Regions from separate parts of the Homo sapiens genome. Here all the other regions are reported to be linked to region 1. Evidence: microRNA targets listed by miRTarBase, many of them from high-throughput screens and not tested one by one. Region 1 holds a microRNA gene; each other region holds the end of a gene's coding sequence. Distances are from middle to middle.

Region 1 (4,618 bases):
GGGCCACAACTAAATGCACCCATCTTCCACCTTCTCTGTCCACCCCCAGGTCACTGATGTCAGGGGATGGAGGGAGCCCTGAGCTCCACTCCTGCTGAGTCTTGTCCATCAACCTCCCTTCCCGACCCAGCCCACCCCCATGAGATGCCCAACGTGCCAGCCTCCAGCCCTGGTGCACACAGGGCCAGTTTCTGGAACACTCAACAGCACACCACCCAGGCAGCTGAGGGCTACTCACCGCTCGGGTCCGGACTCGCTCATCCCTCCTGCAGGCGGCCCCAGGTCCAGTTAGGGCCTTGGACTCAGGCCCCCGTGCCAGGAGCTTGACCAGCTCTTAACAATCTGCCCAGGGCAGAGACGTGAGGTCCCCTCCTGCCCACCTGGTGACCCCGGTTGCTCCCAAAGTGAAAAAGAGAAAGACAACAAATAGAAGCCATCACCCCCACTCCCAAGCTCCACCCACCCGCTCAGAGCCCTGCTGCGGGGACGACAAGACCCTTGTCATGCCCCAAGCCCATGAGCACTGACCTCAGACCCAAACAGTAAGCCTCGTCCAGACCCCTGTCCACCTGTCTGAGATCAACAAAGACAAGCATACCCATCCTGACACCACAGAAGCTGAGGGGTAGACCAGGAAGGGAGCGGGTGCATGGGGGAAGCGGGGGTGAGGAAGGGGAGACGGGAGGTGGGAAGGAAGGGCAGGGGAGAGGGTGCTCCCTCCTGCAGGAAGGGAGGGGGTGCATTGGGGAGGAGGGGTGAGAAAGGGAAGATGGGAGGTGAGTGGGAAGGGCAGAGGTGAGGGTGCTCCCTCCTACAGGAAGAAGGGGTGCATGGGGAAGGAGGGGTGAGGAAGGGGAGATGGGATGTAAGTGGGAAGGGCAGAGGTGAGGATGCTCCCTCCTGCACCCTCTTGTCCTCTCTAATGGCCTCAGCTACTGCAAGGCCTCTCTCCCCACACTGGCTGCCCTGCTGCCCCGATGCTCATGCCTGGGCTGGCTGTCGTGGCTTGTTAATGGGGTTAATGATGCCAATATCACAGGGCTTGGTGCGGGTCACCTCTGCCATGCACAGGACCTGAGTTAGTCAGAGAGGCAGAAGACAGAGGTCCAAGAACCAGGGGCCACGGCCGTGCCCCCTGCTCATGTTGCCATTGGGCACCCTCAGGTACCCAGCCTGAGCAGGGTACGCACAGGGGAAGAAGGGAGCCCAGCTGACAGCTTCTGGGGACCCAGAGTTGGGAATCCTTGGGGAGAGGGGAAATGTCTCCAGAACAGGTTTAAGGAGAGAGTAAGAAGCCGCCTGTGAGGGGCCTCAGCCTCCTGGTCATGAAAGAGTCCTGGGTAGAGGCAGAGACCCCTCGAGGAGACCCTCCTCTTGGGGCACAGAAAGGGCCAGCCCTGGTCCGCCAAAGCCCCACCCCCTCCACCCTGGGCACAAAGGGGCACCATCTCTCCAACGTCTGTCCATCCATCCTGTGGGCCGGGTCCCTTTGGAGGGCTCTGTGTGGGAGCACAGCCCCAGCCCCTCAGTGGGAGAAGCCCCAGGGCTACCCAACTCCCCCTCCGGCCTATCTGCCCTTGGCTGTGGAGTCAGCCCAGGGGGTGTCCCACCAGGGGCATAGTTCCCTGCCAAGGAGGGGCCTCAGAGATGGCCCAGCCCCAGGCCCTCCCCTCCAGGAAGTCAGAGAGCTGCAGAAGAGAGAGAGAAGAGCCCAAGGAGCATGCCGGGAAGAGGCTGGCAGGACAGCAGCGGACTTGAGGACGCGTCCCCGTGCAGCCAAGGGTGCAGAGGAGGGTCCGGGGGCTGCGCGTGGTTGAAGGGGATGAAGAAAGGCATCATATAGGAGCTGGATAACTGTGCATCAACTCCTGTATGAAGCCGTTCCCACCCCCCAACTACTGACTACGGGCCGCAACCCTCCTCCCGGAAGCGCAGTGCAAGCGCTCGGATGGCAGAGGGGACGCCTGCTGCTAGTGGTTAGAGCAGTGACAGCAAGGGACAGCCAGCCTAGGCAGTGCCACCCACTGCTGGGCACCTGCAGCGCTGGGGTACCTGTCCACCCTGCCCAGCCTTGCCCTACCTGCCTCCTATGGCCAGGGCCTGGGCCTCCCTTAGCCCCACAGAGCCCCCAGGTGACTGTGCAGCCAGGCCAAGGGACGGAGGATGGGGAGGTGAAGGGGGAGACAGGCCTGATTCTGGCCCAGGTCTGTGAGTGGACATCGGGGACTCGACCCCACCCACCCACTGCTTTGACTCCCTGGTACTTCTCCAGCCTTGCCTTCTACATCTGTGAAATGGGTTGCAACAGGCACCTCTGGGGACCCAGTGAGGACTCATGAAGTCCAGGGGCACTTCAAGAATTTCCCAGAGACAGAAAGTAGATTTTTGGTTGCTGAGGGCTGGGGGGTGTGCATGGAGGGTGAAGGTGACAGCTGAAGGCTCTGGAGTTCTTTTGGGGGTGATGAAAATGATCTTAAATTGATTATGGTGATAGTTGCAGATATCTGTGAATAACTAAAACACACTTCGCTGTGAGCTTTAATGGGCGGATTGTGTGTATGTGGATTACATCTCAATAAAGTTGTACCCCAAAACACCTTCCTTTGTTCTTTGACATCTTTCTCAACCACCATACTGCCTGCCTCGTCCTACACTCTCCAGCCATCCACACCACCAACACACATGCACAGGGACACGCAGCCAGGCACGTGGTAGGTGGTGCAAAAATATCTGTGAGTAAATGACCTGATAATATAACATTCTCTGAAAGAGCCCATGGAGGGAAACCTTTAGGGAAAGGGGTTAAAGATTAAGAAGTAGGGGTGGCAGGAGGGTATGGAGGTGGGAAAGAGGCTCAGAGTGACACATGAATGGAAAAGGGGCTCAGATTGACAGACACATGGAGGGAGGAGGGGCTCCCTGTAACACATGGGTGGAGGAGGGGGCTGGTGTGACACACGGGTGGGGGAAGAGCTCCATGGGACACATGGGTGGAGGAGGGGGTTGGTGTGACCCATGGGTGGAGGAGGGGGCTGGTGTGACACATGGGTGGGGGGGGTTAGTGTGACACATGGGTGGAGGAGGGGGCTGGTGTGACACACGGGTGGGGGAAGAGCTCCATGTGACGCATGGGTGGAGAGGGGGTTGGTGTGACACATCAGTGGAGAGAGGGTTGGTGTGACACATGGGTGTGGAGAGGGGCTCCATGTCACATAAGTAAGGGAGGGGCTCAGGGCAATGCATGAGTGGGGGGAAGGTCTCTGGGTGATGCATGGGAAGGGGAGGACTTCAAGTGACATGTGAGAGAAGCTCAGGTGACACATTAGTAGGGAAAAGGCTCCTCATGACACATGAGTGAAGGAGAGGTGGAATGTGAGACAGAAAAGGGGCTCAGTGTGACGTGTGTGGGAAGAGAGTCTCTGTGTGACATATGGGGGGAAGGGACTTGGAGTAACACAAGAAAGGCGACTTGGTGTGACACGTGGGTGGGAAGAGTCTCTCTGTGACATATGGGGGCAGGGACTTGGAGTAACACAAGAAAGAGGACTTGATGTGACACGTGGGTGGGGGAAGATCTCACGGGACACAAGGTTGGGAAGAGATGCCCAGTGAGACACAAGGGTGCAGGGAGGGCTCCGCGTGTCAGAAGGAGTCCATGCAATACATCAGTGGAGGAGGAGCTCAGTACGACACGGGGTGGGAGAGCGGCTCAGTGTTATACATGCATGAGGTGAGGGGTCCATTCGACAAACGGGCAGGGGGTGCTGTGTGCCTTGTGAGTAGAGGAGGAGCTTCATGTGACATATGAGCAGGAAAGAACTCGGTGTAACACATGGACAGGGACAGGGGCTCCAGGTGACACATGAGTCAGGGAAGGGCTCTGAGTAACACATGTTGAAGAGAAACTCAATGTGATACATGGATGGGGAGAGGCATTCTGTATGACTTATGAGTGTGGGGAGAGACTACATGTGTGACACATGATTAGAGGAGGAACTTAGAGTGCAGCTGAATGGGTGGGGCTCCTAGTGACACACACGCAGAGGACAGGGTCAGAGTGACACCTAAGTGGTGGAAGGAGCTCAGTGTGCTACAAGAGTGGGAGAGGGGCGTCCTGTGACACATTAGTGGGGCTTGCTGTGACACCCTTAAGAAAGATAGAACATTCAGTGTGATACAAGTAGATGAGAAATTATTTGTGTCACATGGGTGGAGGCTCCATGTGACATATGAGTGGAGGAGGTGTCGAACATGACACAAGGATGGAGGAGGAGGGGCTCCATGGGACACCTGGGAGGGAGGAGGAGCTGAGGATGACACATGGAAGGAGAAATGGCTCCATGGAACAGGAGGTGGAAGGAGGTGCTGAGTATGACACATAGGAAGAGGAGGGGCTCCATGGGACACCCTGGAGGAAGGAGGTGCTGAAAATGACACGTGGGAAGAGGAGGGACTCCATGGGACACACGGAAGGGATAGGAAGCTGAGGATGACACATGGGAAGAGGCGGGGGCTCCATGGGACACACAGGAAGGAGGAGGAGCTGAGGATGACACATGGCAGGAGGAGGAGCTCCATGGGACACAAGGATGGAGAAGGCGCTCAATATGGCACATGA
Region 2 (4,539 bases), not on the chromosome of region 1:
AACAAGGCTCACCCATATCAGCTGAAGAGTCGGTGGAGAAGGAATCCTGTTTGCTGAAAGGTGATGGATGAATAGTATCCAATGGAGCAACAATGAAATTGTTGCTTCTGAAGACTGTTTCTCACCTGGGGATTGGGGACATGGGCCCAGACAGCTATGCGCTGGTTCACAGTCTGCTATTTCATTAAGAACCGTAGGAAATGTAAAAATAAGGCAAAGGAATACAAATGAATTGAAAGGGTTCTAGAATATCCTTTTTAGGAAAGCAAAGGGACAGGGAAAGTGTAGTTGGTGAAGCCTGATCACTCATGTTCCAAGATGAGAGGACAAAAATTCACTTAGAGAAAGTTGACAGAGGTAGTCAGACATCAGCATAGTCATCTCCACTGAAAGTTTGGCTGAAAGGTCAGGGTGGCGCTGAGGGGACAGCAATGAAACCCACCCGCACCGGGTGCTCCTTCGCCGTTAGAGCTTCCTGCGACTGCAGTGGTGGCGGCGTGTGGTTTCGCTGCTTGGTAACAGTGAGCACAAACCCACCCTCTCTTCTCTTCTCAGAATTTGAGGTTAACATCGTGGTGCTGCTTCACCCTGACCACCTCATCACGGAGAACTTCCCGCTGAAGCTCTGCAGGATATAGCCCGGAGGAGGGAAGCATAGAGAACGGGAGTGGCCATCTGGAAATCCAGCTGGTTATCCAAATCCTAAGGGGAGCTACAGCCAGCGGCATATACTTGTTTTTGTGATTATTCTGTATCAGAAATGAAACAGACCCTCAAATTAACTTTCCTTCCTCATTTCTTGAGGCTTCTGCTTCCAACAGGCACCTCTAATCAGACCTTTTCTTTGAAATTCAACAAGATTTCTTAATGCTATTTGCCAAGACCATTTCACAGAAAACATTGACTGTGGCTCTTGCCTTATCTGTTCCTTTTTAGGTACAGTAAAACAATTGTGACAGCAGTTTGAGCTTGCTGGAGAGTGGCATCATGGGGACAAAAGGAAACCTCTGACTTGCTAATGGATGTAGCCAGGGACTCCCCATAGCAAAGGGTCTGTGGCCAGTTGACATCCAGGATGGCTGCAAGCGCACTTGATGGTCAGGAAGTTTGCAGATACTCGCCAAGGCAGAGCGCAAAGTGCTAGCCACTGGAAATGCATGACTTCCCTCCACCCCTACTCTATTCTGTAGTTTTTTGGTTTTGTTTCTGAGACGGAGTCTCAGTCTGTCACCCAGGCTGGAGTGATCTCAGCTCACTGCAACCTCCACCTCCCAGGTTCAAGCGACTCTCCTGCCTCAGCCTCCCGAGTAGTTGGGATTACAGGTGACTGCCACCGTGCCCGGCTAATGTTTGTATTTTTAGTAGAGACGGGGCTTCACCATCTTGGCCAGGCTGGTCTTGAACTCCTGACCTCGTGACCCACCCGCCTTGGCCTCCCAAAGTGCTGGGATTACAGGTGTGAGCCACCACACCCAGCCTCTGTAGTTCTTTTTACAACATTTTTCATTATAACTTTAAATTTTTTAAGCAACTGGAAAAGTGTTCCTTGCTCTCTTGGGGGGATTTGGCTGGTGCCGAAGTGTTTCTGAAGTCTCAAGAACTGCCATAAAATCTCACGCTGCCATTTCCCTGAACAGATACATACATAGAGAGAGACAGTTTTCCAAACTGTGTCACGCAGGCTGAGTGCACTGGCAGGATCACAGCTCACGGCAGCCTCAACCTCCCTGGCTCAAGCGATCCCTCCCCTCAGCCTCCTGAGTAGCTGAGACTACAGGTGAGTGCCACCACACTCAGCTAATTTTCAAATTTTTTGTAGACAGGGTCTCCCTATGTTGCCCAGGCTGGTCTTGAACTCCTAGACTCAAGTGATCCTCCTGTCTTGGCCTCCCAAAGTGCTGAGATTACAGGTGTGAGCCACTGTGCCCAGCAGTTTCCCAGAATATATTTAAATGCAAAGTTACATGAGGGGAAAACATGTATGTTTGCTCCTGTTGTTACTGGGTAGGTTCTGAACAGCAGAAACCCATGTGCAGGGTGGGCTGGTGAAGGCCCCTCTCCGCAAGGTGGTAGCAGGAAAAGGTCCTTGACTTGATGAATTTGGTCTGCCTCTGAGCCACTGGAGGAAGCTGTTTTGAGCCAGGGTTTTTTGGCCTAAAGCCAGCATTTCCTCAGTCTCCCTTTGTGGTTCGAAGGATATGGACTATTGCAATACATTTCTTCCTTCAAATCCTGCCACTGTTTTGTTGGCCCACAACTAATAGGACCTCAAAATAAGCCATGCTGCTTTGCACACACACTAGCCTTCTTTTGTACTTTTCATTCTGGATGGGCTTGGCCAAAACAGGCTCAGGCCAAAGACCTCCCAAGCTGTATGTACTTCCAGTATCCTGAAACAGTGTTTGGTGACATAATGCCAAGGGTAAACAAGCCTGATTTAGGCACTGCTTTATCCAGGGGCTTCACCCATGAAATTAATAAAACTTATCTGAGTCACTTGAAACTTGGTTCCCAGAAAACACATTTCTGGTTTATAATCTCCTTTTATGCTCACCTGACATTAATTATCTATCCTTGATGATGTGTTTAAACTGAGTAGCAGAAAACAGAGGCCACACTTTCTGGGAAATTTTAAAGGAAGAAACCATTTTTAATGAGATGAAAATATTTAACGAATTTAAAAAGCTAATGACAATTTTGAGAAAAGGTTTGGGATGTATATTGCTATGTAATTTAATAAACTGATTTTATGGATATAAATATGACTGCTTTCCTTAGAGAATAATTATTACCTGAAGCGCATCCAGACAACGTGGCTACCTTTATCATTTCATTCAACCCTGAGTGGCCCAAACAAAGGCCTCAGGCCGGCCACTTCCTTCCACTTCTTGGTCTGACCTCTCCATGATCTGTTACTAGGCAAAACTCAGATGTTTGGCTACCTTGGGCTGCAACTGTCCCACTCTTGCCCAGGCTTGCTGGAGTTGGGGTTATCCACAGTCAGAGGTTCAGAGTTGTCAAATTCTCCAATTAGAGCAAGAGATGAGGAAAGGAAAGGGAGACGAAAGAAAGAGGCTGTGCCTCAGAAATAATAACGCCGCATATCTACAACTATCTGATCTTTGACAAACCTGAGAAAAACAAGCAATGGGGAAAGGATTCCCTATTTAATAAATGGTGCTGGGAAAACTGGCCAACCATATGTAGAAAGCTGAAACTGGATCCCTTCCTTGCACCTTATACAAAAATCAGTTCAAGATGGATTAAAGACTTAAACGTTAGACCTAAAACCATAACCTAGGCATTACCATTCAGGACATAGGCATGGGCAAGGACTTCATGTCTAAAACACCAAAACCAATGGCAACCAAAGGCAAAATTGACAAATGGGATCTAATTAAACTAAAGAGCTTCTGCACAGCAAAAGAAACTACCATCAGAGTGAACAGGCAACCTACAAAATGGGAGAAAATTTTCGCAACCTACTCATCTGACAAAGGGCTAATATCCAGAATCTACAATGAACTCAAACAAATTTACAAGAAAAAAACAACCCCATCAACAAGTGGGTGAAGGATATGAACAGACACTTCTCAAAAGAAGACATTTATGCAGCCAAAAAACACATGAAAAAATGCTCATCATCACTGGCCATCAGAGAAATGCAAATCAAAACCACAATGAGATACCATCTCACACCAGTTAGAATGGCGATCATTCAAAAGTCAGGAAACAACAGGTGCTGGAGAGGATGTGGAGAAATAAGAACACTTTTACACTGTTGGTAGGACTGTACACTAGTTCAACCATTGTGGAAGACAGTGTGGCGATTCCTCAGGGATCTAGAACTAGAAATACCATTTGACCCAGCCATCCCATTACTGGGTATATACCCAAAGGACTATAAATCATGCTGCTATAAAGACACACGCACGTGTATGTTTATTGCGGCATTATTCACAATAGCAAAGACTTGGAACCAACCCAAATGTCCAACAATGACAGATTGGATTAAGAAAATGTGGCACATATACACCATGGAATACTATGCAGCCATAAAAAACGATGAGTTCATGTCCTTTGTAGGGACATGGATGAAATTGGAAATCATCATTCTCAGTAAACTATCGCAAGAACAAAAAACCAAACACCGCATATTCTCACTCATAGGTGGGAACTGAACAATGAGAACACATGGACACAGGAAGGGGAACATCACACTCTGGGGACTGTTGTGGGGTGGGGGGAGGGGGAGGGATAGCATTGGGAGATATACCTAATGCTAGATGACGAGTTAGTGGGTGCAGCGCACCAGCATGGCACATGTATACATATGTAACTAACCTGCACACTGTGCACATGTACCCTAAAACTTAAAGTATAATAATAAAAAAGAAAAATTGCTTCAAATGAACAACAAAAAAAAAGAGGCTGTGAACAATGAATCTAAAACAATATTTTCTTTTGGGAAATGCCCGTTTTGGCAGGAATACATTTTGGCTCCGCTGTGCTGTGAATTCGGAGGAAAAGTAGGGAGGG
Region 3 (4,618 bases), 36 Mb from region 1:
ACCAGTATTGAGGATTTAAACCCATGTGGCTGTTGGCGATATTAGGAAACCTAAATCCTTTAAGATGATCCTTAAGTCACCATATCTGACAAGACTGCATCCTTCCCTTGTCTACAAAATGAATTCCCAGCAAATCCCATTCCAGGTGAAGTTTCACAGGACATTAAGAAATGTACCAGAAAGCGGTCGGGCACAGTGGCTCACGCCTGTAATCCCAGCACTTTGGGAGGCCGAGGTGGGAGGATCACTTGAGGCCAGGAGTTTGAGACCAGCCTGGCCAACATGGCAAAACCCCATCTATACTGAAAATACAAAAAATTAGCCAGGCATGGTGGTGCGAACCTGTAATCCCAGCTACTCGGGAGGCTGAGGTGGGAGAATCGCTTGAACCCGGGAGGCAGAGGTTGCAGTGAGCTGAGATCACGTCACTACACTGCAGCCTGGGCAAAAGAGCACGACTCTTGTCCCAACCCCCCTACCCCCCCTGCCAAAAAAAAAAAAAAAAAAGGAAAAAAAAAGTACCAGAAGCAATTAACTCTGCAAACAGGGCCTGGAGGATGCTGTGCAACAGGAACTGACAAGTGCTTACAATGTGCCAGGCCCTGTACAAAGCATCTTAGATGATGTGTTTGAGTAATTCCAGAACCGCCCTCACGAGGTAGGTACCAACAGTGCTCCTATTTCCATGGTGAGGATGTGGAGGCAGGGAGGTGGGTGAGGCTCTCTGCCATAGAGCTGGGGCTCTGCACTGTGACCCCTTTGCCATATGCCTCTCAAGGCAGCGCTATCATTTCTGTGGACTGTAAAATTGACTGTATTACAACATTGACATGGACCTAGGGAATTAAAAATAATAAAACCAAGGTCACTGGGAAAAATACTGCTTTGCCAACATCAGCAGTGTTTAGCACTGGCGCCAGTGGGATGCAGCATCCTCTGGAAGGATCCAGTGGAGGGAGACAAGGGGAAAAAGGGAAGGAAACAAATGGGAGAGGAAGAACAGAGATAGAAGATAAAGAACAAGAAGAGAAGGAAAAATATTTGATTTATTTTTTTAGACAGAGTCTAGCTCTGTCTCCCAGGCTGGAGTGCAGCAGCATGATCCTGGCTCACTGCAACCTCTGCCTCCTGGGTTCAAGCAATTCTCGTACCTCAGCCTCCCAAGTACCTGGGGTTATAGGTGCCTGCCACCACACCCAGCTAATTTTTGTATTTTTGGTAGAAACAGGGTTTTACCATGTTGGCCAAGCTGGTCTTGAACCCCAGACCTCAAGTGATCCGCCCACCTCGGCCTCCCAAAGTGCTGGGATTACAGGCATGAGCCACCTCCACGCCCAGCCAGAAGAGGAGGAAAAAAAATATTAGGTTGGTGCAAAAGTAATTGTGGTTTTTACCAACCTAATGTTTTAGGAAAAAGAAAGTCTGGGCCAGGTATGGTGGCTCATGCCTATAATCCCAGCTACTTGGGAGGCTGAGGCAGGAGAATCACTTGAACCCAGGAGACGGAGGTTGCAGTGAGCTGAGATCGCGCCACTGCACTCCAGCCTGGGCGACAGAGACACTGTCTCAAAAAAATAAAAATAAAAATAAAAAGTCTGTAGGGAAGGGTGGAGCCCAGGCATTTAGAAGAAACTCAATGAATACTTGCTGCACCAACAGAATAGAGGCTCACCTAAGGCTAATGCTGCATGACCATCCTTCTTGAGCACTCTAAACATAGACAGTGCTAAAGCTGTGACAGAAATGGGAATTCCAAGGAAGTTCAGGCAAAAACTTGTATAAGCAATACTTCCTCAGGGTAGAAAAACAAAATTCAACAATATAGAAAGGTATAAGATTAAAAGGTAAGTCATCAACTTCCAACCCAACCCTCTCAGGAGGTCCCCTGAATTATGTGTCCTCTCAGAAATACACAAGCATGCATACATTTCCCTCTAAACACAACAGTATCATAAAGGGCACACTGCAACTTGCATCTTCAGCCCAAGGGTCTGCCTGACAAATGAGCTCACAAAGGATGGCAGAGACCTGTGGCACAGTCTGTTAAGGCTGTAATTCATATTGCAACACCAAGATGGCAAACTTGTTTCCTTTTATTCTGTGGAACGTCACTAAAGTAAACAGACATGCATGATTTATGTTAATTTATACATGATGAGAATTAAGGCTGAAAATGACTTCTGGGGAAACTCCTACTATTAGTTTCAGATCTTCTGGGCAGGGGCTGACTTCTCTTGGCTTACTTATACTTCCTAACTCCCAGTGGGCCTGAATAGACACTGGCCAGACTTTCAAAGTAGCTTCTTGAAGATGGATGGTGATCTGGAAGGAAAAACAAGAAATAAATGTTTTCTCTAAGCAAGCACTGAAATGTTTCCTGTTCCTTCCATACTGCACCATTACCCACTCACATTGCCAAAGCTGTTAACATTTACATCCTTTCCTGCCACCAGCTCTTCTAGGGCGTGTCCATAAATGGACTTGAAAATGATGCATGGTATTTCCATAGTACTGTGTGAATACTGTTCAAGACCAGACCAAGCCGTGAGCCATGACTGCATTTCGAGTATCACACATACCCTCTCAAAGAATAGTGTTCTAGCATCAAACTACAGTTTGCTTCTACTTGGACCTTAACTTTCTCAAATAATGCAAGAGCTTTTGTTTTATACTATGACCCTTTGATATCCTTGTCTTTTCTAGCTTTTTCTAGTTTTTCTCAGGTGCTCCCCCAACCTGTTCCACACAGGATTTGTAACTTCAGGTCATTTGCATGGTTATCAGAATGCCCCTTCGCTAATGTCCAAATGAGGGTTCAGTTTCCCAAAACTCACGTCTTCCTTTTTTCTTGGTTAATTCCTCATTTTGCTAAGTACATTGCTAAATAACTTCTTAGGAAGAGATGTGGGGTGGCAAACCCTTGCACGTCTGAAAATATCCAGATAGATTCGGCTAGGTGTGAGCACATGTTGAAAGTCATCTTCCCTGTGACCTTACAGGACACTCCTCCATTGTCTAAAAGCTTCTTATTGCCAGTAAGACGGGCGTTAAGTCTAGTTCTCATTCTTTTCATAGGCAAGCCACTTTTTTCGTCTCTGGAGAAAGATGTTAGGATTTTCATGTTTGATATTTTTGCAGTTTCAACAGGATGTGTCTAGGGATATAAGTGCACACTGCAACTTGCTGCTTCAGCCCCAAGGGTCTGCCTAAGGAGAGACACGTCCTGTTGAAATTTCAAAAATATCAAACAATGCAATGTCACTCATTGCAGTCGGTACTCAGGGCCCTTTCACCTAAGGCCCTAAGAACTGCCAGATTGGTCCTGTTTCCTTCTCTTTTCTATTATACTTCCTAAGACATTTGCTAATTCTTGCCTTCTAACTACCTATTCAGAGTATACAGACCGTCAGCTGTTCCTGACCTGCAATGTGTCATCAACTCTGAACCCCAAGCCTCCTGGGGCTTCAGCAGAGGGAGTCTAACCTCTCCTGTAGTTTCCTCTGTAGTTTATTGGACAGCAGTTTTCTCCCCTACACTGTCAACCTGTGACAAGCCATGCTGCGCTTCTTCCAAAAATGTGTTGAAATATAAATATTTCAATTCATTGGTTATTGCCAACTCTCATTACTATCCCCTCTCCCCTCAGGGAAGTCTGAAAAGAAATGTTTTGAAAGCATTAGAATGTGAATTTTTATAGCGTCAGTTTGAGCCCTATAATTCATAAATAAGCTACATGAGGAAAAAAGCCAAATTATTACCCAGTAACAACTTACCTGTTTAGAATAATCCATTCACCTGTTCTGTTTCAGGGTCCAAATCAATATCATAAAAACAGGGCCGGGTGGGGAGTCCAGGCATTGTGCTCATCTAGGATGTAAAAAAGCATTACAAATAAACTAATGCTGGGCACAGTGGCTCACGCCTATAATCCCAGGCTGAGGTGGAGAGGATCACTTGAGGCCAGGAGTTCTAAACCACCCTGGGCAACATAGTGAGACCCCCATCTCTACAGGAAATAAAAAATTAGCTGGATATGATGGCATGTGCCTGTAGTTCCAGCTACTTGGGATGCTAAGGCAGGAGGATTGCTTGAGGCTAGGAGGTTGAGGCCACAGTGAGCCATGATCATCCGATTGCCTGGGCGACAGAGCAAGGCCATGTCTAAAATAAACGTAAAGTCATCTTTACTTTCACTTTTCCTTCAGAAAGAAAGCCCAAGGCATAAAGATAGAACATCATTTTATAGTTGTCAATAAAGTGGGTACTCTTGTTACATATTAAAAATCAAGTCACTGATCCTGTTAAAAAACTCAGAAACTGATCCCTGCCGGGCGTGGTGGCTCATGCCTATAATCCTAGCACTCTGGGAGGCCAAGGCAGATGGATCACCTGAGGTCAGGAATTTGAGACCAGCCTGACCAACATGGTGAAACCCCATCTCTACTAAAAATACAAAAATTAGCTGGGCATGGTGGCGTGTGCCTGTAATCCCAGCTACTTGGGAGGCTGAGGCAGGAGAATCGCTTGAACCTGGGAGGCGGAGGTTGCAGTGAGCCGAGATCTTGCCACTGCACTCCAGCCTGGGTGACAGAGCAAGACTCCATCTCAAAAAAAAAAA
Region 4 (4,538 bases), not on the chromosome of region 1:
TTTAAGTGAAAGAAACCAGACTCGGCTGCAAACTGTCTGATTCCATCTACATGACATTCTGAAATCAGATCATCGTTTTCTGGAATCAGGAGCGTGGGAAAGGACTGACTATAAATTAGCACAAGGAAACATTTTAGGATGATGAAAATATCTTCAGTGTGGTAGGGACATAACTATATACAACTGTTAAAACTCGTCAAGCAGTACACTTAAGACGGGTGAATTTTTTCATATTCAAGTTCTGCCTCAATAAAGCTGTTCCAAGAATGTTAAATATATTGAGAGATATATGCACAGAAAAGGACGCTATACTTGTCTCTTGCGGTAGGATTTTGGGTGCTTTTCATTTTCTTGTCTTTGCTTATTGAAATCTTGTAAAATTTCCACAATGATTATGTAGAGCTTTTGTAGAGAGAGAGAAAAACAACAATAAAATGCCATGATCATAAATAATTGGGTTATTCAACAAGGAATGTATTGTTCATTCAACATTGTTCATTGTAATGAAGCCCATTTAGACCGCCTCCTTCTCATCTATCTTTCATCAGTGACACTTCTGAGGGGTGAGCTGAGGAAACGGGTGCAAAAAGGTACAGAGCTTAATAGCAATCCTTTGTCCATCCAGCTCTGGGCTTGGCTCTCGCCTTGCTTTTTGGATGAATACACAGTAGACTAATGATAGGGGGGCTCTCATCTTCCTTTGCCAACTTCGCCCTCCATTCCAATGCAGATCAGCTCATGAGTCCTCCAGGCCCCAAGAGAGACTCCTCAGCACAGGGCTGGGCAGACTGTGGTTTGTGGGGTGCAGGCCCGGCATCCGCCTCCAGCTCACATTGGTCTGTTGGGTGCTGCCTGGTCTTGGTAAAGTCAAGAGGCCATTCATCAGTGGAGAGCCACAATGAGGGTGACCACTCATGCCGCACATGGCAGGACAGGACACAGAGTCCCTCCAGGAGGCCCTCTGGGTGGGGATGCTCAGTGTCAACAGGCCTCTGGCCCTTTTCCCCCATCACGCATGCCGTTCATCTCCGAACTTGCCGCTTATGAAAGGGCAGTCACCTTAGGAAACCCAGCCAACCTGGAGGTGGAGGATGGCGTGTCAGGAATGGTCCACACCACTTGCCCGTGGGCGCCTAGGCTGCACAAGGCCCCGTCAGGGTCCAGGTGTCAGAACATAGGAATCCAGTGAGGATAATAAATCTATAATTATAAAATAGCTTCATAAAAACATCTTGTAGAGGAAACATACAATTTTCTAGCCACTCTAGTCAGGAAGTAAAGCCCAGCAGAAGCCCAGAGCAGCTGGGGTGGGCACAGGGAAGTGAGACACATCACAGCTGTCCTGGAAGCCTCTGTTTTGTCAGCCATAAAGGGTAAGTTGGGAGAGACCCTGGTTCCCAACCTGGGGTCTCTGTCCTCAGGATTCACACAGGCACTATTGTCAGGAACTACTTCTAGCATCTAAAAACTCCATACATTATTCACAGTAGCCAAAAGATAGAAACAACCTAAGTGTCCACTGATGGATGAATGAACAAAATGAGGACTATCTAGACAATGGGATATTATTCAGCTTTTAAAATGAAAGAAATTCTGACACATGCCACAACATGGATGAACCTTGAAGACATTGTGCTAAGTGAAAGAAGCCAGTCAAAAAGGATAGTATTGTATGATTCCTCTTGTATAGAAGTACCTAGAGTGGCCAAATTCACAGACAGAAAGTAGAATAGTAGTTACCAGGGGCTAGGAGGAGAGGGGATGCGGTGATATTGTTTATAGATACAGAGTTGCAGTTTGGGATAATAAAAAATTCTGAAAATAGATAGTGGTAATGGTTACACAACAATGTGAATATATTTAATTCCAGTCCTGTACACTTAAAAATGGCCAAAATGGTAAATTCTATATTATTTATATTTTACCACATCCACAAAGAAACGAACTCCCCACATACCCACAATGTCTCACTGCTTCATTAAAGCATTGTCATGCCTGTTATCACTCAGATCTGAATGGGCAGGTATAGCCTCTGATTGATTTTTTAGAAGAAACAAAAATAACAGCAAAATATGTTAATTGTAACCTTCAGCGAGAGCTGAAGGAGTTTTTTGGGCAGTTATAACCTTTCAAAGCATGACATCTTTTGGGGGAAGACAAAGGGGCTGTGATGGAAAGGTTGGCTTGAGTGAGTACTTTGGTATCCCTACCCGCCCCCAGCCTCAAATGCTGATCTTGTACTTGGGGAGGCTATGCTAAAGGAGAAACACACCCCAGAGGAGACACCAGGTGGTGTCTTCAGACAATTCCCACCCAGCCATAGGGATAGGCATTTTGGGTTTGAGACGGCCCTTTCTCTGGCTTACTTTTAGAGCCTGGAGTCAGACTTCTTCACAACAAATAGCCCAGAACCAGCTGGGAACTCTCTGGCCCATATGACACATGACACTGATACAGTACCAGAAATGCATGGCACCAGCTAATACCACTGAGGGGCAGGAGGGCATACTCTCTCTCAGACCCTCATCCATCACCCCCAGAACCAGGACAAGGTCATGATGGCTCTTGGCAGCCTGCTCAGCACCAGGGCAAGAACAACTCAGGCTGGACATTACGAGAGTAAACACAATAGATTTCTTTCCCAGACCAAGAGCTTGGGCACCAGGAGTGGGCATTCTGGTTCACTGTTAGGCAAAAAAGCCTTTGGGGAAATTACCAGCTCTCCCGTCATCCCCACCTTCCTTGAAAGGCAGCATGTGGGGTGGGAAGAACAATCAGAAGACAAATTTTAATCTAAATCCTGCCCCTCTGTGGCCCTGGAAACTTGGCCCCTTTGAGCTTCAGTCACTTTGTGAAATGACAATAACATTCAATCTCCTTCAACCTCATTACTATGGATTAAATGAGACGGTGTCTGGGGACATGCTTGGAGAATGTATTGTACAACTGCTTAGGAATTTTCTTCTGCCCCTAAACCTGGAACTTAGAGTGGAGCAAACAGTAAACAGTCACTGTGTGTCGGTTAAGGGAACAGAGCCTCAGAGCCCCGACCCCTGGAAACGTTTCTTTTTTGTTTACTAAATTTCTAGCAACACCGTGTTTTCTACAGAGGTGGGGGGAAATGTCCATTTAAGTGCAAGATGAAGGGGCCTGTGAAAGGACCCTCCAAGGCAATCCCATGTGCTCCCGTCTCCTGGAAAGAAGCCACATTTCTTCAAGTTGATGCAGGGGTGTTGGGGGAAAGCCAGAGTAAACAGGGCTCTCCTGGTACCTCCTTAGAGTACACAAGTCATTTGTGCTGGGGAAGAGTTTAGTGTGTGTCCTTCAGGAGTCTCCAAATGGCACTCCGGCTGCAGCTTCAGTTGACCAACTTCTCCCTCCCAGGAAGCAGGGAGGAGAGAGACCTTGGGCAAGGCTTTGTACCTGCAGCCCCAGTGAGCAGATGTGTTTCCCAATGTGGAAAATGCATACCGTGCTTCCCCTTCCTCGTTGTCTATGAGTACGTAAAAGGACACCTCCTGTGGCCCTGCAGCATTACAATGTCTGTGGCATTGTAAGTTCTTGCCTTGGTCTGGGAGTCCCTCCTCTGTTCTCTAAGCTCAGACCCAGAGGGCAAGACCTAGAGTGCCCTGCAACTGAGGCAGCCTCCCCAAGGCTCGTTCTGAAGCTGCCGTCCTCTGAGGACAATGGCTTCTTGGAACTTCTTGGAACAAACAAGACAAACCAACACATTAGAGCCGGCAGCGGGGGCACACCGTGTTCTTCTAGAAAAGGATCAAGGGGAGTGGCTTCAGTAACGGAACATGAGGGACTCCCTCACATGGACACAAAGCATCAAGGGACAGGCCGGCTTTGCTTTTCGCTTCTTCCTAGCTGCCTAATTAGGACTTACTCAGTTCACAGTGTTCTACCTTACCGGGCCCTCTTGGAGCCAGCTGGAGATGATAAAAACCACACAGGTATTGGAGTCAGATAGCTTCACATGCCATTTCCACCTGAGAAACTTGGGTGAGTCACATCTCTCCAGGCCTCAGTTTTTGCATCTGTAGAAGGAAGAGAAGACAACCTATCTCCAAAGCGTTGTGACAATTCAGTGAGATGATGTTTGTCAAGCCCACCACACAGGGCAAGTTGGTTCCTTCCCGTCCCCCGCATTTGCCTCTACTGAGGGTGAAGGCAGCAGAGAAGACATCACCAGCAGCTGCCCACCACTGCCTGGCTCTGGAGAGGGAGGGACCACGCATCCTCACCTAACCACACCAGGCCGCTATCGCCTGCATGTATCTCGTGTCCAATCGGGGCCCTGAGGCAGCGTCCCGCCCTCCCTGGACCCCCTCAGATATCCCAGGCTGGAATGGTGAGGGGCAGGTGGGAGCAGCCAGGCCCTTCCCTGGGCAAGCCGTGGTGAGCCACCCGCCCATTCCGCAGCGGGAGGCGGCCGGGCCTGGGGGCCCCACTGCTAGGGCCCGACTCAGAGGGCAGCCCGGAGTCGCTGGGCCGCACCACCACGAAGACCCGCCTGTGCAGAAGCCCGCCGG
Region 5 (4,618 bases), not on the chromosome of region 1:
GATCAGTAGTAGCCAGGGGCTGTGGGGAGATAGGAATGGGAAATGACTGCTAATGAGTATGGGGTTTTCTTTCGGCAGGGGAGGTGATGACAGTGTTTTATAATTAGTAGTGATCGTTGCACAACCTTGTGAATATAACTAAAAACCACTGAATTGTATACTTTAAAAGGGTGAGTTTCACGGTAAGTGAATTGTATCTCAGTATAAAAGTTAGATGATAAACACTTCATTCATGATTTCTAAAAAATGTTTTTTGAGTTCATGGGATGAGACTCATCATTTGAAACCATGTAGGTATAGAAAAGAGGGAGACTAGGGTTCACTGGGTGCTTCAACTGTGCTATATTGTTTATTATTATAGAAAACCTATGTCAAGGCAGGTATTATCCTTACATTAGAGATAAAGCAGGCCTCACAGATTTTGTCCAAGGTCGTGAAGTCCAGGTTTGAACTCACATCCCTCTGAGTCACATGTTCTTAACATTATACCCACGTGGGAGGTAACAAATGCTAAAGACATGCATATATAGAAAAAGATAAGTTATTTATGATTTTTCCCCTGAAATTGTTATTTCTTTCTTAGAGGCTGGAAAAAATTCAAAAGGTCCAGTTAAATTGCACTAAGGTGAAGAGTAAGCAAAGTGAGCCCAGCAAGCACTCAGGGTTTTCTACCTCAGACAACAGCATAGCCAACACTCCCCAGGATTACAGTGGGAATATGAAATCATTTCCATCCCGGAGCCCTTCACAAGGCGATGAAGATTCTGCTCTGATTCTAACCCAAGACAATCTGAAAAGTTCAGATCCAGATCTGTCAGCCAACAGTGACCAAGAGTCCGGGGTGGAGGATTTGAGCTGTCGGTCTCCAAGTGGTGGTGAGCATGCACCGAGTGAAGATAGTGGCAAGGACCGGGATTCTGATGAAGCCGTGTTTCTCACTGCCTGAAGTTTCCCTTTGGAGTTCCAAAGTAAAGGACACATAAGCAACACTTCCAAAAACAAGGGAACAAGGTGGTTTATTGTAAAAACAGGAAATGGTGCATGTCATTGAGAACTACTTTAATGCAGCTATGAAAAGGGAAAAAAGTGCCCAGTTCTTGATTTCTTAGATACTGAAGAGGACGTAGTCATTTCATTTATCAAATATAAGGAAAATTATTCACCATTTTGAAGCTCACCCTAGACTATGAAAATTATATTCACTGCAGAGCAATTACTTCTGTCATTACCTGAAGTGATCAGTATCTATCTTCCTTGTCATAGCATGCATCTCTCAAAAAGCCTCCACTCCTTTCCCTCACATCTGTGATCATCATGATTCTTTTAGTTCACTTCTAGATGCATATTTTGTGTTTTCTAAAGCATCTGACATTATCCTCCTTTCCGACCCTCTTATACATATTTCTAAAAACAGGCACATTGGTGAGATGCACCCTTTTTAGTTAATAGATGCATTCCTAAGGAGCTTTTAATTGCTTATCTTTCAGGCATAATCATCACTTTAACTTTTCCTTGGAGCATATATTTTGAATTGTGAGAATAATTTTGTTGCTTTTCTCTGAGATCTATAGTCTGTTTCTCCTCATTATTTAAAAATGCTAAACCTTGTATCTCACTTTTTCTCTAACACTGATTTAATAGCTAACGAGGTAGAAGCAACATTCATTCTCCTGGTCTTACATATGAATTTAAGTATCAGCTTTCTTGTAATAACCTTTTATTACTGTTCTAGAGACTACACTACCGACAGTGTGGGCCAGCCACCAGCCTGATCTCAAAGTATCACATTATAAAGTTAGTAGATAAAACATCTGTGAGTGAAAATCCAGTTTCAAGAACCAGAGAATTGGGTTGTCATGTCTGTTTAATGAAGGGAATAGGTTTTGTAATCTATCATTTTAGAAATTATGTAACTGGCTAATATGGTTTAATTAACCTTAGTAACATCTCATGACCACTGACTGCTGAAAGTTCTGAAAAGAATTTTTGTTTTGTTACACTGCACATTTAAGGGAGAGTCCCTCCCCTATCTTATGAGTTAAAAAAGACTTCACTAGGTGACCTAAATTAAACTTAGTGGGGAAAAGTGGCCATGTTTGGACATAAATAAATGGTATTCACACTGTATGGTTTTAATATATTAGTACATTCTAGAATGTAAAAGGATTAAACTTTACAATTTAGATCAATATTTTGAATATGTGAAAGGATTAATTTAAACTTTACAATTTACATCAATATTTTGAATATCTGATTTTTTTTAATGGGAGAATTATTACATTTCGCTGAAATGAGGACGAGGGCAAGAAAGCAACATTGCTGATCTCTCTAGTATGAAAGATTTGGAGGGAGTGTTGCAATATATATAAATGAAAACATTTAATTGTGTTCATCATATTTAAAAATATAGAATATATTAGAGAACTGTGATTTAAAAGTACTGTTAATGTAAAAAATAAAGCAAGTGTAATTAATTCTTTCAGAATATAAAATTTGGGCATTCTCTGCTGAGCAGTTCCCAAATTAAGTACAAGGAATGTTTATTCATTTTCTGCAATATACTATATGTAATAGGGAATACCTTGCTAAAATAAAACTTAGGATATAGTGGTAATGGCTTTCACATTTTTATAACATAACATAACTCACTTCACAACCTTCTTGGAGCTGTCCACTCTTAGAAACTCTGTTGCCTAATATTGAGGATGTGGCTTTAATTTCTTCCGTTTGACAGTGTATGTCTATAAAAACAATAAACATTTTTTAAAAAATGACAAAGTATCTATGCCAAACAGCACTATGCTTTTATTTGAAAAGCAAATAGTATAAATATTTGATGTTTTAAAATGTAGTTTTTTAATATGACAACTTCCATATCAGAGTCATAAACTTTTAGTCCCCTCAACTTTTTTACAAGACAGACATTATAATTTATGTAACATGTTCGTCTGCTTATTAGAAGTTAACCTAGCACTGAGATTTATATAAAAGGTTACATTTATTGCTTATTAAAACTTTACTGTACTTTCACAGATTCTTCAGAGCATGGCTAACCCAACAAGACTAAAATATCCCCAACAAGACTAAAATATCTAATAATCAAACATTAATCAGGAAGTGTTTTATTGAGAGCAGTGGTTTAAAGCATAGGGAATAATCCAGTATAAAACTGATTTGAGGCATATTACTTCCCAATTAGTAATATATAGAATGCAAGTAATTTATTTTTTAAAGTTGATATGAAATAAATAGGTAAGAATTTTGACCATGACCCAGCAAATCAGTAACTGAGCTTTTTATAGAATGGAAGGTGATGATCAGAGACAGAAACCATAGAATAAATTTTTATTCTTTAAGAGCACATTAGTTTACTTTCTTCTCCTAAAAATGAATCTGAGCTGTCCTTCAATTTAAGCATATATATGTGTCAAGCACCCTCTATTCTGATATAAATTTCCTAGTCTCAATTTATGCCTAGAAATTTCTTTCAACTTTGAAGTGGGTCTGTTTAGTTTATATCTCACTGATTGATTGATTTAGAATTTTCTTCTATTTTAAGATATTAACCTTTAAATCTCTACCTATGACAAATTCGTACACTGATTAGCCTAGTAACTCCTAAGTATTCCTCTTTAATTCTGATTTCTATCTCATCTTGTAAAATCAGAATACAAACTTTCACATGCATTTCATTTTTCCTGTGGCACTGCTTCTCCGATGTGACCAATTTTTATGAAGAAAATATATAGCCATAAAATTAGAAAAAATGGTCACTTAATCTCTGTTGCAAAAACAGAACCCACATTCATACGGGCATATTCAAATGCAGATTCTTTTCATCGTGGGTGACATACATAACCTTTATGTAAACTGATTTGTCTATTTGTTAAATGCAGATAACTGATCACACTGCTCTGTTTCATGACTGGGTTGTAACAAGGTTATCCAATGAATGGTATAGAATGAAACTGGGATAGTTCAACTTTAAAGAATAAAAAACACTGAGATGAACTACTCATGTGATTATGTAGAACATTTTTACTCTGTAAGAAAATGTTTCTTTTTTTTCTGTTTTTCTGGTGAAAAGGAAAGTAGATAAGCATCTAAACAATGTTTATCTTTGTATAGTATTTCCACAATGCCTTATTCCTAGTAGGTACTTAATAACATAGATAGATCAAATGAATTAATCAAATGAGGGGCTGTGGTATGCTCCTCCCTTGTTATGGGATACACCTACCTGGTTTCTAGGAACCTGATGGTTGGCAAAAGATTGAGACTGTTCTATCTCCCATTGCTGTAACTGCTGGGAAAATTAAGCTCTGGTGGCCAGTGCAGTATAAGGAAAGGTTTCTGAATACCCAAAAGACTATCATAAATTTGAAACACTCTTACCTCAGTTATCTACAAATCAGGAGTAATAATTAATTATTCCTTCCTCATCTGGTCACTTTGAAGCTTTAACAGCATGTCCTTAGCACAGTGTCAGGAAGACAATGAAAGTTATTTTCTGTATCCAACATTGTATCTCAGTCCACGTGAATACCTGCCCTCCACAAACAGACTAAATATTAAGCATGTTTTAATTCTAACAAAATAATTTTGTTCTTCCTATAAC
Region 6 (4,000 bases), not on the chromosome of region 1:
TCCCTCACTCCATGCCTCTCCTTTCTCTGCTGCTGTCTTGGCCCAGGATACCCTGGGTGGCCGGTTTGATGCCACCCAGGCCTTTGTCGGTGACATTGCCCAGTTTAACCTGTGGGACCACGCCCTGACACCAGCCCAGGTCCTGGGCATTGCCAACTGCACTGCGCCACTGCTGGGCAACGTCCTTCCCTGGGAAGACAAGTTGGTGGAGGCCTTTGGGGGTGCAACAAAGGCTGCCTTCGATGTCTGCAAGGGGAGGGCCAAGGCATGAGGGGCCACCTCATCCAGGGCCCCTCCCTTGCCTGCCACTTTGGGGACTTGAGGGGGGTCATATTCCCTCCTCAGCCTGCCCACGCACTGGCCTTCCCTCCTGCCCCACTCCTGGCTGTGCCTCCCATTTCCCCTCACCTGTACCCACACCTCCAGAATGCCCTGCCCTGCGAGTGTGTCCCCTGTCCCCACCTGAGTGGGGAGGAGCGTCTCAAGTGAACAGTGGGAGCCTGCCCACCTGGCACTGCACTGGAGTTGTCTCTTACCCCACCCTCCCTGCCCATCAACTGTATCTGATTTCACTAATTTTGACAGCACCCCCAGTAGGGTAGGATTGTGTATGAGGGGGACCCCACTATCTCAGTGGTGGGGGTGGCCGCCCGCCCCCTTGTCCCCCATGCAACAGGCCCAGTGGCTTCCCCTTCAGGGCCACAACAGGCTGTAGAAGGGGATGACGAGGACATCAGAGGTTAGACTTACCCTCCTCCCTCTTTCCACCAGCTGCCAGTCAAGGGCAGTGGGATCTCGATGGAGCCTCCCCCCCCCCCCACCCATGCCTCCCTCTTCCTCCTCTTTCCTCCTCTCTTTGTGTGTAGCGGTTTGAATGTTGGTTCCATGCCTGGCCCAGCCCCACCTCAGTCTCCAGGACATTCCTTTCCCAGCTCCAGCCTGGAGGGAAGGGGACAAAGACCCCAGGAGGCCAAAGGGCTGCAGTCACCCCTTGTGCTCACCCATAGTGATGGCCACTGGTATAGTCATCGCTCTCCCTCCATGCCAAGGACAGGACTTGGACCGCTTCAGCCTGGGCTGGGAGCAGCCCTAAGGTAGAGGCCTCATGGCCCAGGAGACCCCACCTCTGGCAGAGCCACATTACCTACCCTGTGCATGGTCCTGGGGCAGCAAGGAAGAAGCTCAGAGGGTGGGGAGAAGCATGAAGCAGTGAGCAGAGCACTGGGTGAGAGGGAGAAGACCTTGGTTCCTAGCCAGCCCTGCTAATGTGCTGTGTGGCCTTCTGTAAGTCCCTGCCCTCTCTGGGCCTGGCCTTCCTCATTCGTGAGCTGAGGCCCTCGCTTTGGTCATTTGCTCTCCAGATTGGGTGTGAGCTTCTCTGTGATTCCAGGTGGATATGTGGGGAAAGCTCTGGTGACCCTGGGCTTCGCAGGGGTAGATCCCAGGACTCGGCAGTGGATGGGATGCAGCCAGTCATGGGTTAGGGTCAGCAGAGACTCAGAGTCCAGGGCAAGGTTCAAGGCAGACTAACCTCATGCATGGATTGTAAAAAACCAGCTCCCTTTGGATCAACCCAGCCTGGCACCCTTGCCTGTCTGAGAGTGTCTCAAAGGGCTGATGGCTTCCTGGTCCCCTTGAGTCATCACCAGCTTCCCCAAGAGAGTGTCAGAATCTTAAGAGCTGAGAGGCCGGGCACGGTGGCTCACGCCTGTAATCCCAGCACTTTGGGAGGCTGAGACAGGCAGATCACTTGAGGTCAGGAGTTCGAAGTCAGCCTGGCCAACGTGGTGAAACCCCATCTTCACTAAAAATACAAAACTTAGCTGGTTAGGTGGTGCATGCCTGTAGTCCCAGCTACTCGGGAGGCCGAGGCAGAAGAATCTCTTGAACTGAGGAGGTGGAGGTTGCAGTGAGCCGAGATCACGCCATTGCACTCCAGCCTGGGCAACAGAGCAAGACTCCATCTCAAAAAAATAATAATAATCTTAAAGATGAGAAAAGCCACCCCATCTGGCACCACAGCTGCATCTTGCTTGTGAGAAATGGGGAAGAGTTCAGGGAGGACACGTGACCTGCACAGGATCACAGAGCATGGGGCAGAGCCAGGACTAGAGCTCAGGGCATCTGACTCCCTCTTCAGTGTTCTTCCCCCTCCATGTTGCCTGCCCCTGAAGACCTTTGAGTTCAGTCTACACCTAAGCAGGTAGACATCCGCGAGGTCAGATGCTTTCCAACATGACACCTGAACATCTTCCTTTATGCAACACCCAAACATCTTGGCATCCCCACCCCAGGAAGTGCGGGGAGGAGGTTATGATCCCTGGGCGCTTCGGCAGAATGGAGAGCTGAGGTGTCCCTCCCCTGCTAGTCACCTACCAGGTGTCTGAGCAGCTGCATGCTCCCTGGCTCAAGTGGGCACTGTACCTTTTGCCTGCCTTTTTGTTCCCTATCTCCACTCCCTGAGGCCACTTAGCCTGAGACATGATGCAAGAGCTGCAGGCCGGGGGGCTCAGTGCCATGGAAGCTACTCCAAGTTGCATTGCCTCCCGCGCCCAGATCCTGCTTTCCATTTCGAGAACATAAATAGATTGCCCAGCCCCTCCAGTACAATCCCACTGGAAGAAAAGGCAATGGCGGGCTTCAGCCAGACCTGCTGAGACCTAGGTTGCCACGGTAACAGCCAAAGACATCAACCCAAGTGCTGGGTCAAGTGTCTCATCATACTGGCACTGTTGCTGGGGTGACGGCAGAATTCAGAACTTCAATTTCAGTGACGCCAAGCTTGATGTGTTTCTGTTATTGTTTTGAAGAAGGTAGCTCTTGTGGAGGACTTGGGAGAAGGATGGGGTCTTAGGAAGGAGGTGACAGCACTTGCATGGTCACTTGAGCCCACACACACGCTCAACCCCAAGTCCTTTATGCTTTGTCACAGTGAAGATGAGACCTCTGACGTCCAAGCCTTGTTCCTGTGCTGCATCACCCACTCAGCCTTCCAAAGGGAACAGGAACAAATTTCCCCAGCACCACTGTTTGGGTCCCGCTTTTCCTATCTTCTGCTGCCCCTGAGCACATCCAAGCAGACAGGGAAAGAGGAGTCAGACATGGCCCAGTCACATCCTGAGCTGCTCCTGGCTGATAACCACGATGGAGCCCGTGTTTGTCCTGCCATCTGGCACTGCACTGAGTGTGGCACAGGCACCGTCCTGTTGATCTCACAACACAGTTCTAAGTTAGGACGTTCTTGGCTCCGTTAGACAGGTGAGGAAACTGGGGCACAGAGAGGTGATGTCATCTGCCTGGTGTCAATCAGCTAGCAAGTGATGGAGCCCAGATTTCAAACCAAAGGGGGTTACGTCCAGGGGCTGAGTTCCCACTCACCTGTGTAGAGTGCCATCTGGGCACCATTGCTCCAGACGTGTTCCGACCCCTTTCCCAGCCCACAGGGCTTGAAGTGAAGGAACAGAGGCAGGGGGTGGGCCAGCCCCAGGGCCAGGGTCCCCTTGGTGAAGCCGTGCCAGGGGGCTCAGCTGCTTCAGGGAATGTGTCCCTCCCACCATGGGCCAGAGCTTCAGCCCTTCTTTAGCTCAGCTAGAGTTCACAGGAGAGCCAAAAAAGAAAAGGAAGCTGAGCATCTCCCGAGTCCTGGGCAGGGAAGGGGAGGGAAATTGCTGCTTCTCCAACTCTTGCTTGGGGCCAAGCCCTGCACCAGTTGCTTCCCAGCTGTTATCTGCCAGATCTTCCCATCTTGTGGCATGTGGTGCCCCCACCAACATCCCAAGGGGACCAATCCCCTTGCCACCACTTTGCATCACCTGGGACCACAGATTTGGACAGGAAGGGCTCTGAGAAGAGGCCAAAGCCCTCATTTTACAGATGAGGAAGCTGAAGCCCGGGGAGGGGAGCGACCCTCAAGGCCACCCAGCTGGACACGGGAGACTTGAGCCCAGCCTTCTGACTGCATTCAGCCCTCTCTAGGACGCAGCAGCCTCTCCCCAGCACT
Region 7 (4,585 bases), not on the chromosome of region 1:
CTAGGAGACCAAATGTGGCTCAGAGCCCTACCCCTTCCTGGCCTTTTCCCCCTTGCACAGTATGACCCCAGATGAGGCCTGTCCTCTTTATACCTGGAGGTAGTAGATCGAAGATGAAAAGTGGGGGTGGGAAGCGGAGAGGGGCTTCCTGCCAGCCAATCGGGACGCGACCGCCCAGGCTCCCAGCACAGCATCATCTGCTCCTGCTAAGACAATCATCAACATAAAAGGCTAATTGTATTAATCACCAAGGCACCCGGCCCGAGTCCCCCTCCCTTTGGGGAGAATTATGAATTGCAATTGCAGATGGCTCCACTGATTGAAGGCAGTGCTCAGCAGGGAGAAGGGTCAGATCAGATTATACACCATTAATTAAAAACTTCCCTGACAAACAGGAGGAAGGGAATGCACACCAAGGGCTGGCCTGGTTGGGTCTCTGTCCTCCCCATGTCCCCTGCCCCCACCCAGGCCCAGGGGCTATGCCAATGAAGCCTGCTTCCCCCAGCTGGAGCTACTGAGATTCAGCTCTCCAAAGGCCAGCCCTTCCCTCATCCAAACAGATGGCCTGCTGTCCTATTAAAGGGCTCCAGAGGAGGGGAAGCGAACCTTTGGTTACTTATTTCCACGTCTAACCTTGGATGCTCTTCAGAGGCTAACCTAATTCCCCACTTCTCAGGAAACTTATTTCCTCCTGCTCTGTCCTGACAGAACTGCTTTGAAGAACTGTTAGTGAAAATAGCCCCTCAGCTTTCTCTTCAGGCAACCCCTCATATTTTGGCCTGTATGTTCCTGGGACAGACATTGTGAAGCCTGCTCTGAAATTGTGGGTGGAACAGCAAATATCTGGCGATGCACCCTCTCCCCAGCCCCTGCCTGGAAGCATAGGCTTCTCAGCTGCTGTCATACTGGCTTATTTGGAGCTGTAACTCCTGAAATTTTCTCCTCTTGATCTATTACTGCCTCCCATCCTCCCCAACTGCCCAGCCTTATTCATTCATCAAACTTATATTGAGCACCCAGTGTGTGCTTGGCTCTGGGGACAAAAAGCAGTGATCATTTGTCAAGGAGCTTAAGAGCCTACCATAGGAGCTCCACGCCCCCATCCCCTTCAATCCTCTAGTTCCTGTTTCCTTCCTTCCTGGGGCTGCAGCTTGTATGAACCCCCCAGGAGCTCTATTTTGGAAAATTCTCAACTGGGAGCTGGGGAGACCTTAAGTGTTCGTGCTCCTGAACCAGGTGACCTTGAGCAAGTCAATCATGTCCTCTGTTTACACATACGCTCTCATACATGCATACATACAGACACCCAGCTCTCCCTGCTCATAAAAGGACACAGGCAGCCTTGGACTCTGAGAGATTGTGAAGATGGATGAGTGGGGCCCAGCTTGGAGAGATGTGAGTAGTATCTGCGCTGATATTACAGAACGCTGAGCACAGCTACTGGGGCTATGAGCACCAGGGATTCAGCTACTGCACTGGTCACAGGCTGGGCCTGCCACACTGCCCTTGGAAGACTTGGGCAGCCTTTCCCCCATCCCCAGTCCCTCAGGAGACATCACTAAAAAGGATCTATCTTTTGTTTGTATTTTAATTTAATTAATTTTTCATTTTAAATAATAGAGATGAAGTTTCACTATGCTGCCCAGGATGGTCTCAAACTCCTGGCCTCAAGCAATCCTCCTGCTTGGGCCACCCAACATGTTGGTGATTACAGGTTTGAGCCGTCATGCCTGGCTAAGTTTTTAATTTTTTGTAGAGGCAGGGTTTTGCCATGTTGTCCAGGCTGGTCTCGAACTCCTGGCCTCAAGCGATCCTCCCACTTTGGCCTCCCAAAGTGTTAGGATTACAGGTGGGAGCCACTGCACCAGGCCAGGACCCATCTTTTGTTTTGTTTTTTTTGTTTTTTTTTTTGAGACAGAGTCTTGCTCTGTCACCAGGCTGGAGTGCAGTGGCGTGATCTTGGCTCACTGAAACCTCTACCTTCCGGGTTCAAGTGATTCCCCTGCCTCAGCCTCCCAAGTAGCTGGGACTACAATCACGCGCCACCACGCCCGGCTAATTTTTTATATTTTAGTAGGGACAGGGTTTCACCATGTTGGCCAGGATGGTCTCGATCTCCTGACCTCGTGATCTGCCCGCCTCAGCCTCCCAAAGTGCTGGGATTACAGGCGTGAGCCACCGTGCCTGGCCGCCAGGACCCATCTTTTATATGAATTTGGCTGCTGCATCTTAGGGTACCATGGTGATGGGCGTCATAGAGATGAGAAGAACTGATTTTATTGGTTCGCCTCTTCATTCCAGGGCCCTCCCACAGCCCCTCACACCCACAAAGCCTCAAGGTCAGCAGACCCAGGAGAAGAGCACACAGGGTCCCTGGTTAAGTAGATCCAATGATGTGAGAGAAAACCCAGTCTCTCTTCCCTCCCTCTCAATCATCTTTCTCTCTCTCTTTTCCCCTCCTCCCTCTCATTACCAACAGCAATTGTCTTCATACCCAATAATTACAGTAACAGCAACAATAATCATCATTTATTGGGGTTGTTTTTCTAGCATTTTAACTTCTGAAAGTATTTTCCGATTTCTTGATTTCACAGCAGTCCCTGGAGGAGGATTGTGTGTCCATTTTACAGCTGGAGAAGCCGAGATCCAGAAAGGACCCCCAAGTTGTGGGCAGAATAAATCTACAGCAGCTTTTAACTATTAAACCAACTTAGATTTTGGTAGTCTTTCAGAGGCACTGAATCTCAAATCTTAGTTTCCTGGGTCCCTCCTGGGTTCCTACCACCCTTAGGGCTTATTCAACAGCTTTCTGGGGATCCTGTAATGCTGACAGAGAGCCTGGAGACGGCTTCTTTGACCCAGGTCATGAGTCAATGGCTAGATGGGCACTTCCCCTCTGAGGATTGTTCCTGCCTGAGAGTGGGCTGTGGGGTGGGAGCTGGGGCAAGCACCTGGGAGGAGGCTTCCCTGGGAAAGGCCTGTCTGGCTCAAACCTCCCTTCCTCTATCCCACCTCTCTACGAGCCTGAGAAAATGTTCTTCTCTGTGTCAGTTCTTCTCAAGGGTGGGGGCCTCTCCAGAGCATTTGGAGGATTGAGGAATAAAGACCTATTGGGAGAGGCCGGGCACGGTGGCTCACGCCTGTAATCCCAGCACTTTGGGAGGCCGAGGTGGGCAGATCGCCTCAGGTCAGGAGTTTGAGACCACCCTGACCAATATGATGAAACCCCATCTCTACTAAAAATACAAAAAATTAGCTGGGCGTGGTGGCAGGCGCCTGTAATCCCAGCTACTTGGGAGGCTGAGGCAGGAGAATCCCTTGAACCCAGGAGGTAGAGGTTGCAGTGAGCCGAGATCATGCCACTGCACTCCAGCCTGGGTAACAGATCAAGATTCTGTCTCAAAACAAACAAAGATCTATTGGTAGAGCAGTCTCTGTCCTCAGGAAGCCCCCAGTCTGAAGGAGGAAATATAGCCCCCAAAACCACACCCAAGGTCAGAGAAACACCCCCAGGAGCTCAGAGGCTGTCCCAGGGCCTGATTCCTCCAGAAAGCCTGTCCTCTCTGGACCAAGGGTTTCCTGGGTGGGTAAGAAGCTGGGGCTCCCTGAGGTCCCTATAGCTCCCATGTCTAAGCAGAGTGGCTGTCTGGGCTCCCATTCCTTTCTCCCCCAAGACTTGGGCATCTGGGGTCAGGACTCCTACGGGGTCCAGTGGGTGAGAGGATGGGAGGGCGATCCTAAATCCCCTGCCTTCCTCTGCTCTGTCCCACCGAGAGGTGGGGAAGCCCTACAGAGAGGGAATGGGACAAATTCACTCCCAGATTCTACCTAGAAACGTAATGCCAGGGATAGGGCTTGTCCCCTCCAGCCCACCTGGTCAGGACAAAAGGTCAAGCCTCCCCCTCCCGCCACCCCCAGGGAGAACCTCCAGGCAGGTCCTGCAAGGCAGGAAGCCCAAGGGCGCGGCCAGGCGTAGGCTGTTTCACACACTCTCCATCTCCACGGCTCCCGAACCCGGCTGGGATTCCTTCTTCAGGGGCTCCGCCCCTGCCCCTGCCCCTGTCCCCACCTCTACGGTGCCTGTGAGGATAGCCAGCCGCTGCGCCAGGGTCTTGGTGTCGGGGAACAGGACGAAGTTGTAGATCAGTGAGGCCAGGAGGGCTCCCATCAGGGGCCCCACCCAGAAGACCTGAGGAGAAGGATGTCGTCACCCCACCCAGGAGCTATCAGGACCACAGGGTGGCTCTGGGACCGCTGCCTGCTTCCCCAGTGCCGACTTGATCTCCCAGGTCTCCCTCAACTGTCTGTAAGGTGCTAAATTTGAGAACCACGAGTCGTGTTTCCCAAGCCCACAAGGTAAGGGGACCTTGCCCCTTGCTCTCCCTGCCCTCCCTGGGGCTGAGCCCAGGCTCTGCAGCCGTGGCTGGGGCCTGGGGCCAGTCTCCTCACCCGCCCCCGCCTCTTTCCTCTCACTTCCCCCGTTTTAGCCAGGAGTCCTGGCTATTGCTGTTTCTGTCTCTGCTGGTGTGTGTGTCTATTTCTGTTTGTCTTTTTCTTTATCCAAGTTTGAAAATTGGTCCAGCTG

The links. The annotated mature microRNA hsa-miR-665 reads ACCAGGAGGCUGAGGCCCCU and lies in region 1 at 1,305-1,324, opposite strand. An mRNA with a match to its seed (bases 2 to 7 or 8) in the 3' UTR can be bound and repressed. Matches are read on the target gene's strand: a 7mer-m8 pairs with bases 2 to 8, a 7mer-A1 pairs with bases 2 to 7 and ends in A, and an 8mer does both.
Region 2: the mRNA of VPS26C is a reported target of hsa-miR-665. The part of its 3' UTR that is shown has no 7-base or 8-base seed match.
Region 3: miRTarBase lists MTHFD1 as a target of hsa-miR-665. The part of its 3' UTR that is shown has no 7-base or 8-base seed match.
Region 4: the mRNA of NPFFR1 is a reported target of hsa-miR-665. Seed matches in the 3' UTR shown: 7mer-m8 at 2,662-2,668 and 8mer at 949-956.
Region 5: miRTarBase lists MTMR7 as a target of hsa-miR-665. Seed matches in the 3' UTR shown: 7mer-m8 at 1,668-1,674.
Region 6: miRTarBase lists NPTXR as a target of hsa-miR-665. Seed matches in the 3' UTR shown: 7mer-m8 at 379-385 and 7mer-m8 at 3,126-3,132.
Region 7: the mRNA of AQP6 is a reported target of hsa-miR-665. Seed matches in the 3' UTR shown: 7mer-m8 at 3,510-3,516 and 7mer-m8 at 3,325-3,331.

The regions. Positions count from the first base shown.
Region 1 is chr14:100,871,781-100,876,398 of GRCh38, reverse strand. It overlaps MIR665 (microRNA 665), which reads right to left and starts at 1,366; the gene lies at 1,295-1,366. MIR337 (microRNA 337) reads right to left here and starts at 1,906; the gene lies at 1,814-1,906. RefSeq lists an enhancer at 2,558-2,727.
Region 2 is chr21:37,221,643-37,226,181 of GRCh38, reverse strand. VPS26C (VPS26 endosomal protein sorting factor C) reads left to right here. Exons shown (of 8, transcript NM_006052.2): 8 at 556-2,760. The coding sequence ends at 638. DSCR9 (Down syndrome critical region 9) reads right to left here. Exons shown (of 3, transcript NR_026719.2): 3 at 4,446-4,539. Among named protein-coding and RNA genes, the nearest start is that of DSCR9, 15 kb to the right of the region's middle.
Region 3 is chr14:64,457,463-64,462,080 of GRCh38, reverse strand. It overlaps MTHFD1 (methylenetetrahydrofolate dehydrogenase, cyclohydrolase and formyltetrahydrofolate synthetase 1), which reads right to left. Exons shown (of 28, transcript NM_005956.4): 27 at 3,774-3,867; 28 at 2,056-2,322. The coding sequence ends at 3,778. It also overlaps a transcript of ZBTB25 not described here. Among named protein-coding and RNA genes, the nearest start is that of AKAP5, 5.7 kb to the left of the region's middle.
Region 4 is chr10:70,250,622-70,255,159 of GRCh38, forward strand. NPFFR1 (neuropeptide FF receptor 1) reads right to left here. Exons shown (of 4, transcript NM_022146.5): 4 at 1-4,538. The coding sequence ends at 4,336. Among named protein-coding and RNA genes, the nearest start is that of PPA1, 19 kb to the left of the region's middle.
Region 5 is chr8:17,296,190-17,300,807 of GRCh38, reverse strand. It overlaps MTMR7 (myotubularin related protein 7), which reads left to right. Exons shown (of 14, transcript NM_004686.5): 14 at 584-4,014. The coding sequence ends at 946. It overlaps VPS37A (VPS37A subunit of ESCRT-I), which reads right to left. Exons shown (of 12, transcript NM_152415.3): 12 at 2,784-4,618. Among named protein-coding and RNA genes, the nearest start is that of VPS37A, 52 kb to the right of the region's middle.
Region 6 is chr22:38,818,880-38,822,879 of GRCh38, reverse strand. NPTXR (neuronal pentraxin receptor) reads left to right here. Exons shown (of 5, transcript NM_014293.4): 5 at 47-4,000. The coding sequence ends at 271. Among named protein-coding and RNA genes, the nearest start is that of NPTXR, 23 kb to the left of the region's middle.
Region 7 is chr12:49,975,069-49,979,653 of GRCh38, reverse strand. AQP6 (aquaporin 6) reads right to left here. Exons shown (of 4, transcript NM_001652.4): 4 at 2,515-4,189. The coding sequence ends at 3,983. LOC105369764 (a long non-coding RNA gene) reads left to right here and starts at 4,149. Exons shown (of 3, transcript XR_001749143.2): 1 at 4,149-4,356.